Linked DNA regions of Homo sapiens. The protein of the gene in region 1 interacts with the protein of each later gene in a pairwise test. Each region holds a gene or a part of one and is shown in the gene's direction. Other genes may lie near its edges.

Region 1 (3,827 bases):
TCCTTTATCAGTACTACCCATTTAGCAGAGCTAAAAGGAGTTAAGTACAAAATAGAATATATTTATTACCCTGAATAAAACTTGAACTTGGAATTCAGAGGAAAGTTACACAGCTAGTAGAAGGAGTTGAAGTCTTCATGGAAGTGGTAACATTTGAAATTGACTTAGAAGTTTGGATATAATATTGGCTAAGAGATGGAAAAGTTGAGTATTCCAGTGCTCAAAGAACAGTGTGGGCAGAGATCAAAGCAAGAGAGCCTATGGCGTGTTTGGAGACTAGATCACTTTGGCTATAGCACTCAGCTAGGTCTTGTCCACATAAACTTTTAAAATCCAGATCTCTATGTTAGAATTAATGCATTGGCTTTTCTGGACACAGTGCCAGTTTTTTTTTTAAGTACAGAATTTAAATATTTTTTAGTTTGTTCTTATTAATTTTATATCTTCTTTCCAACTTAGGAAATCTTGATTCTGCCAGCCAGTGTATTAGCCATTAGTACCAACTTGGTGTCACTTTTAAATGTAATAATCAAGACATACCTACTCTTGAAAACTTTAGTAAAATGTCTTGCTAAGATTATTATATTATTTTCTTTCTTTATCAAGGTTATTATGTTCAGTATAACCGTGTTATTGCATCTTGACATAAGCAATTAGATTGAACCATATGAAATTGCTAATATACAGCCATTTTGAATTACTAAAAAAATGGCAATGTCATATGGTTCAATCTAGTTGCTTATGTCAAAGTATAATAACATGGTTATACTGATCATAATAACCTTGGTAAAGAAAGAAAATTAGTTTGATTCCTCTATTATTAGGAAGCCACTTCTTCCCCTGACCACTGCTTCCTTTACCACTAACCATGGGTTTAAAAATTCTTTCTAGTGTTTATTAGGGATCACTTTGGGGCTTCCTGTGTTTTGTCCAGGAGGTTGGTAATCATGGAGAATGAAATAATTAAGTTGCTGTACGAGGGAGTGCATTTGAAGATATTCGAAAAAGTATTTGGCAAAATGAGTTTAGGAACTCATAATCAACAAATGGCCTATTTCCCTTTTTTTCTTAAATGTTCTATTAGTTTGTTATTTCTTGTTCATTGTCAAGTAACAAATTTTGAATCTCATTTTTTTCCAGTCGAACCTGATGGTAATCATACTAGTCCACAGAAACTGCGTATTTTGAATATTGTTTTTCTCTCAGCTACTTAAATTTCCCCATAGTGTACTACTATTACTGTGACACTTTATGTCATGCTTTGGTTTCTCATTTGTCTTCCTTCCACAAAGGCTTAGAGCTCTATTCAGCAGTTAAAATAATAGGCTCATGAAAAACTGAAAAGAAATAAATTATTACCCTTAAATGGAAGGGTAACAGTTTTTGAAAAAATCACTTTGGTGGTAGTTAGAGATTCTTGAAGACATATTTACATTTCTTTTCCTTCTTTAAAGTTAAAAACCAAAAACCCATAAATCTAAAACGTTATACATAAGAATACAAATAGCTTTTTAATGTTATACATTAATGAATTATAATTTTATTTTATATGCATATTTACTATTGATGATTTATATTTGGAAGCTTGTACGTAGTATATAGTTTAAAGCAGAACATAATTAATGGAGTTTTACAATATATAGGTGTGAAAGTTTTTAAAAGATCTGTCCCTGTCAACAATAAGCAGTTCATGTTTGGGACTCTTAAGTCTTTGAAATGTCTAGGCTTCCAGTTACCTCCTAATCATTCATTAGAACAAGCCAATAGATTTTTATATTTTTAAGTACGTTATTATAAAGTCAGTTGAAAAGTTGATCCTGTCTTATCTCCAGCAGAAATAATTTTCAAAATCAACTAAAACTAATGTTTTCATTTTTACTTCTGAAATCTTCTATCAGTCTTTTATCAGTCTTCTATCATAGAAATGAAATTTATATTCTTGATTTGTTTTCCCCAGATTCTTTTGTCTGGTTTTCCTACCTCTATCTTCCTCTTCTATAATCCCTTCAGTTTATTATAAGATATATTATAAAAAGAGCATAATTTTGATTCCAGATCTGCTCATAAGCCTTCTTCGTTGGCCTCAAATTCTCTACGATATAAATTCTTTGCTACTTTTTTATTTAGGTCCTCTATGATTAGGTTCTCAGTTCAAGTTTTCAGACCACCATTTTGTACTACAATCTTACAGGACACTGCATTACAGCCCCACATAGCCCCCCTCTCTCTTTCTAGTACAGAGCTGTGCATCTTCCATTGTTTGCTATAGTTTGTCCATTTTCTCTGCTTGGAATATTCTCCCCTGCTTTTTGTGTTTCAAAATTTTCCTTAACCTCCAGCCTAAATGTTGTTCATCACTTCAGTCTTTCTGGATAGCTTCAACCAGAGATGATTCTCCCTCTATGTTTACCTTTAGCTCTTTTGATGCAAACCACATCTGAAACTTACGGGAAGAATGAAAATACTGTGTGTGAAAGTGCCTACATTCCCTGCATATGATAAAGAGAAGCAAACATTTTTTTGTGGAAAAAAAAGTATCAATGTAGATTAATATGGCATAAAAAACAGTAAACCATTTAAATGGGGGGAAATGCAGTCCATTTTTGTCAAGAGATACTTGATAAAGAAATTTTAATAGAACAAAGTAATATGTATAGTCTTTTTAAGTATCTTACAATTATATTTGTTTTCTGCCTGTAAATATTTCCCCCTTGCTTTCAGGAACAAAATCTGATCTTGTTCATGGCTTTTTAAGCTCATGAGAAAGTATTAGTTTAGCTCCAGTGATAAAAATAGCCTTTTAGTCATAGAATGCATGATAATGGAACAGAGTAGGATTCAGTTTTGTTATCCAAGCTATGGACTTGATTTCAGACCTAGTAAAAATTTGAACAGAAGAAAAGTTCATTTGTAAAATGTGATATTAAAAAATTGAGTTTTTAACTTTTCAGAAGTATATGTGGAACATTATATTATAAAATGAATTCATAATATTGGATATTAAGTATATATTAATACTTTGTTTCTAGAACCTACCTTCTGGATCATCACGTGTTGGAGCCATTAAGCTTACCTACATTTCAAAGGTAGTCTTTATACATTGTCTTATACTCGTGTGAATTAAAATCCCTGTGAATGAGAGTATGAATAGAAGCAGCAGTTTCCTTTCCATGTCCTTTAACAGTGATGTTCAGATTCCTATCATACTGAAATGGTACCTGATTACTACGTTTAGGAAATTCTTTAAATCGATACAGTTATGAAGAATATGATTTTAACTTACAGGATGTGGCAAATTGCAAAAGTTAACATTAACTTTTATGATCAGGTATATGAACATCAGAAAGGGAGAAATCAGTGAAACAAATTCTATCTTGAGAAAGTCTGGAGATTTTTCTAAGTCTGTATTATGTTTATTTAGACTGTTTTCAACTTTTAAATCCCATTGTCTTTGATACTTTGTTTCTTAATGTTTTATTTTGAGGAAAATATGGACCATTTTCATGTTGAAAGGATGATTTTCCCCCTCTTTTCACTTTGTCTCTTTTCATTTCTGTTTTCTTATTTGTTTTTCTGGTAATTTTGCAATACTATTTTTTATTTTTTAAAATTTTGATTTTATGTTTGTCAGGTACATTTTTTTCTTATTTTCTTCTATTAATGTTTAGGGAACTAAGTGATGCTGAGGTGCTAACCCTATGGGTTTGTGTGTGTGTGTGTGTGTGTGTGTGTGCATGTGTGTTACATAAAAGTAATAAAAGTTTGTTGATTACTTATATATGAGATGCAAAAGGTAGCAACAGTATTATTAAATAATATGGGTACTG
Region 2 (3,827 bases), on another chromosome or scaffold:
CGTGGCTGGCTCCTCTTCCTACCTCTATCCTCATCCCTCCCCTGATGTTGGAGGGTTCCTAGAATCAGCCCTGGAGCCCCTGCTCCTCTCTATCTAACGTTCCCTCCTAAGAGACTCCATCCCATATTTTAATCCCATCTCCATGCGGTGGTGACACAAACAGACTTCTCCAGTTCAGTCCCTCCCTGAACCCTGCACTTACATATGCAACCATGGTTATCCCCAGGTGGGTAGGCACAGACATCTCAAACTGAACAAGTCCAAAAGAAAATTCCTCTCTTCTGCCCTTCATCCTCTGTATCAGTCAGAGTTCTCCAGAGAAACAGAGCCAATCGAATATGCATTTATATAGAAAGAGATCTATTTATTCTAAGGAATTGGCTTGCATGATTCTCAAGGCTGGCAAGTCCAAAATCTGCAGGGTGGGCCAGGCACAGTGGCTCACACCTGTAATTCCAACAGCCTTGGGAGGCCAAGGTTGGAGGATTGCTTAAGCCCAGGAGTTCAAGACCAGGCTGGGCAACATAGTGGGACCTCCATCTCTATAAAACATTTTTAGAAATTAGCCAAGTGTGATGGCACATGCCTGTAGTCCCAGCTACTCAGGAAGCTGAGGTGGGAGGATCACTTGAGCCTGAGAGATCAAGACCAGCCTGGGCAATATAGCAAGAGCCCATCTATAAAATGAAATTCTGCAGGGTGGGCTAGCAGTTTGGAGACCCAGGATCACGGACACTGCAGTTTCAGTTGGAAGGCAGCCTGCTATAGAGCTGAGAAGGGCTGATGTTGGAAATAAAGGTCAAACACAGTCTGTTGGAGAGAGTTTCTTGCTCAGGTGAAGCTGCATGTTATGGACTAAACATTTGCATTCTCCCAAAATTCCTATGTTGGAGCCCTAAGCCCCGATGTGATAGTATTTGGAGACGGGACATTTGGGAGGTCATTAGGGTTCAATGAGGTCATGAGGGTGGGTGCCCTCACAATGAGATTCGTGCTCTAAAAAGAAGGGAAAGAGAGAAAGATTTCCTCTGCCTGCATGCAAAGAAGACGTCAGGTGAATTTCCACCAGGAACCCAAGCAGCCAGAACCTTGGTCTTGGACTTTCCAGCCTCCGGAATTGTGAGAAAATTAATTTCTGTGGCTTAATCCAGCAAGTCTGTGGTATTTTGTTGTGGCAGCCTGAGCTGATGGAGACACCAGTTTTTTCTGGTTCCAGTCTGGCCTTCACCTGACTGGGTGTGGCCCACCCACACTATGGAGGGCAATCTGCTTTCAATGTTAACCTTGTCCAAGGACTAACTTCACAGAAACATGAAGAATAGTGTTCAATCATATATCTGGGCACCCCATGGCCCAGCCAAGTTGACACAAAAAATTGATCATCACATCCTCCAAACCCAGATCTCCAACCCTCTTCAAGCTCTCAATAAGTGGCAACTCCATTCCTCCAGTTGCCCAAGACAATAACCTTAGGCACCTGTGTCTCACACCCCGCAGCTAAACCATCAGCACATCCCGCTAGCCTCACCTGAATATAGAAACTGACCTCTTCCTGGCACCCACCTTTATTTCCACCACCTTGGCTCGGCCTCCTGGCATCTCTTACCTGAAAGATCACAAGAACCTCCTGTTTGGTCTCCCTAATTCAGCCCAGACGTAACCTTGGACAAGTTATGTAACCTTTCTACACTTCAGTTTCCCTATCTGTAAATAAAGATGGCAAAATGCGCATTGCGATTTGTTTAAGAGTTCATTGCATGCCCACAGAAGCACTTAGCACATGTTTGGCATATCATAAACACTCTGGAACTTTAACTATGACTGTTTTTACTCTTATCATTAACAACTAACTGCTTTGGAGCACCTGGGCTTCAAAGGCTAAATTTACAGAGAATGAGTTTTAAACCTCATGTTTAATAGTATTTTCCTTACCATTAGAAAATCTTAGCCTTATGTTTTCATTTGACACATTTTAACCACTGCAGTTTATCCCCAGTTCAATTCTCAAGTAAATAATTTTCAGAGGCTTACGAAATTCACAGAATAGTTGTCTAATTCATGAAGGTTTTCAGCCAGGTGTGACAATGTCCTATTGCTTGTTTGGGGTTTGCTTTCTTTTTCTATTTTGCTGTAAGTCCTGACTAAAGGCGGAGCCTAGTGGGCTCTGCTGGATTTCCAAGGTAAAGCTTCAGCAGGCTTCTGAGTCACCTTATTCAAATCTGGACTCTGCCCCAAATTTGGGGCTTTTATGCTCTATGAAATCAAGACATGTTGACTTAAGAAAACCAGACACCCAGCCTGAAAAGGTCAGTCACCAATTATACCCCAGCCAATTGCACACAAGCTGGAGACATGAGCCCCCCCAAACTCTCTGTGAGCTAAGTGAATTCACACACTTTTTAAGCCTGGAGAAGCTGAGTCATTTGATTACTATATGGCTTACTTACTATAGATTGTGTTTGCACTTGAATTTTCAAATTTGCAGGGGACTTTCCAGATTCTTCTTTCTCCATGTCCTCTACCTTTTCCTTAGATTTTGTCCTCCACACTTTGAGACATGAAGCTAACCATGGCTTTGTTTTTTGTTTTTATGTTTGTTTGTTTTTTGTAGAGACAGGATCTCACTATGCTGCTCAGGAATGGCCTCGAACTCCTGGAATCATGCAGTCCTCCCACCTTGGCCTTCCAAATGTTGAGATTACAGGTGTGAGCCACTGCACCTGGCCTGTTTTTATCAATGACAAATGTGAAGCCACCAGATCACACTCAATGCCTGTCCTGGAAGGGGACGCAGTTCTTATAATCACAAATGAGGTTTTTTTGTTTGTTTGCTTTTTGAAATACGATGTTGCTCTCTCACTCAGGCTGGAGTGCAGTGGCACAATCTCTGCTTATTGCAATCTATGCCTCCCAGGCTCAAGCCATCCTCCCACCTCAGCTTCCAAAGTAGCTGGGATTATAGGCTTGAGCCACCATGCCCAGCTAATTTTTTTTTATTTTTAGTGGAAATAGGGTTTCACCATGTTGACCAGGCTGGTCTTGAACTCCTCAGCTCAAGTGATCCTCCCACCTCAGCCTCCCAAAGTGTTGGGATTATAGGCCTGTGCCATGGGGCCTGGCCGAGCATTTTCTCTGTAATTCCCCGTGCCACCATTCAGCTACTCTGCTGTGTTTGTTTCCTGGGGCTGCCATGACAAAGCACCACAACCTGGGAGGCCTGAAACAACAGAAATTTATTCTGTCATGATTCTGAAGGCTGGAAGCTTGAAACTAAGGTGTGGGCAGGCTGGTTCCTTCCAGGGCTGTGAGGGAGCATCTGTCCTGGGCCTCCTGCTGGGCCTCTGCGGGTTGCTGGCGATTCTCCGCGGGTTGCTGGCGATCCTCCACATTCCTTGACTTGGTAACTTCTCGCTCCACTCTCTGCCTCCGTCTGCACATGTTCTTTCTATCTCCGTCTTCATATGCCCATCCTCTTATAAGGACACCAGCCCTATTGGCTTAGGGGCCACTCTATTTTACGTATGACCTTATCTTAACTAATTACATCTGCAATGACCCTATTTCCAAATAAGGTCACATTCTGAGGCACTGGGAGCAGGGAAGACTTCAACATATCTCTTTTGGGGGACCAGGTCAATCCATTGCATCCCCTAGATAAAGTGTTCCCACAGAACACTTAACCATAAGTCATCCAACAATCAGCTAAGGCTTGAGGAAATGTTTGTATGTCCACCTGGGTTTTTTGGGGTATTGTTTTTTTGTTGTTGTTTTTGTTTTTGTTTTGTTTTACTTTTCTAGTATTTTTTTTAATCTCAGATGACAAGTTT

The links.
Region 2: the proteins of PLEKHA1 (region 1) and CLDN14 interact in a two-hybrid assay, tested with the Homo sapiens proteins (one large-scale study listed by BioGRID and IntAct).

The regions. Positions count from the first base shown.
Region 1 is NC_000010.11:122,394,889-122,398,715, forward strand, and holds part of PLEKHA1 (pleckstrin homology domain-containing family A member 1), read left to right. Parts: intron 1-3,029; coding exon 3,030-3,086; intron 3,087-3,827. UniProt on the Homo sapiens protein: Binds specifically to phosphatidylinositol 3,4-diphosphate (PtdIns3,4P2), but not to other phosphoinositides. May recruit other proteins to the plasma membrane.
Region 2 is NC_000021.9:36,469,986-36,473,812, reverse strand, and holds part of CLDN14 (claudin-14), read left to right. Parts: intron 1-3,827.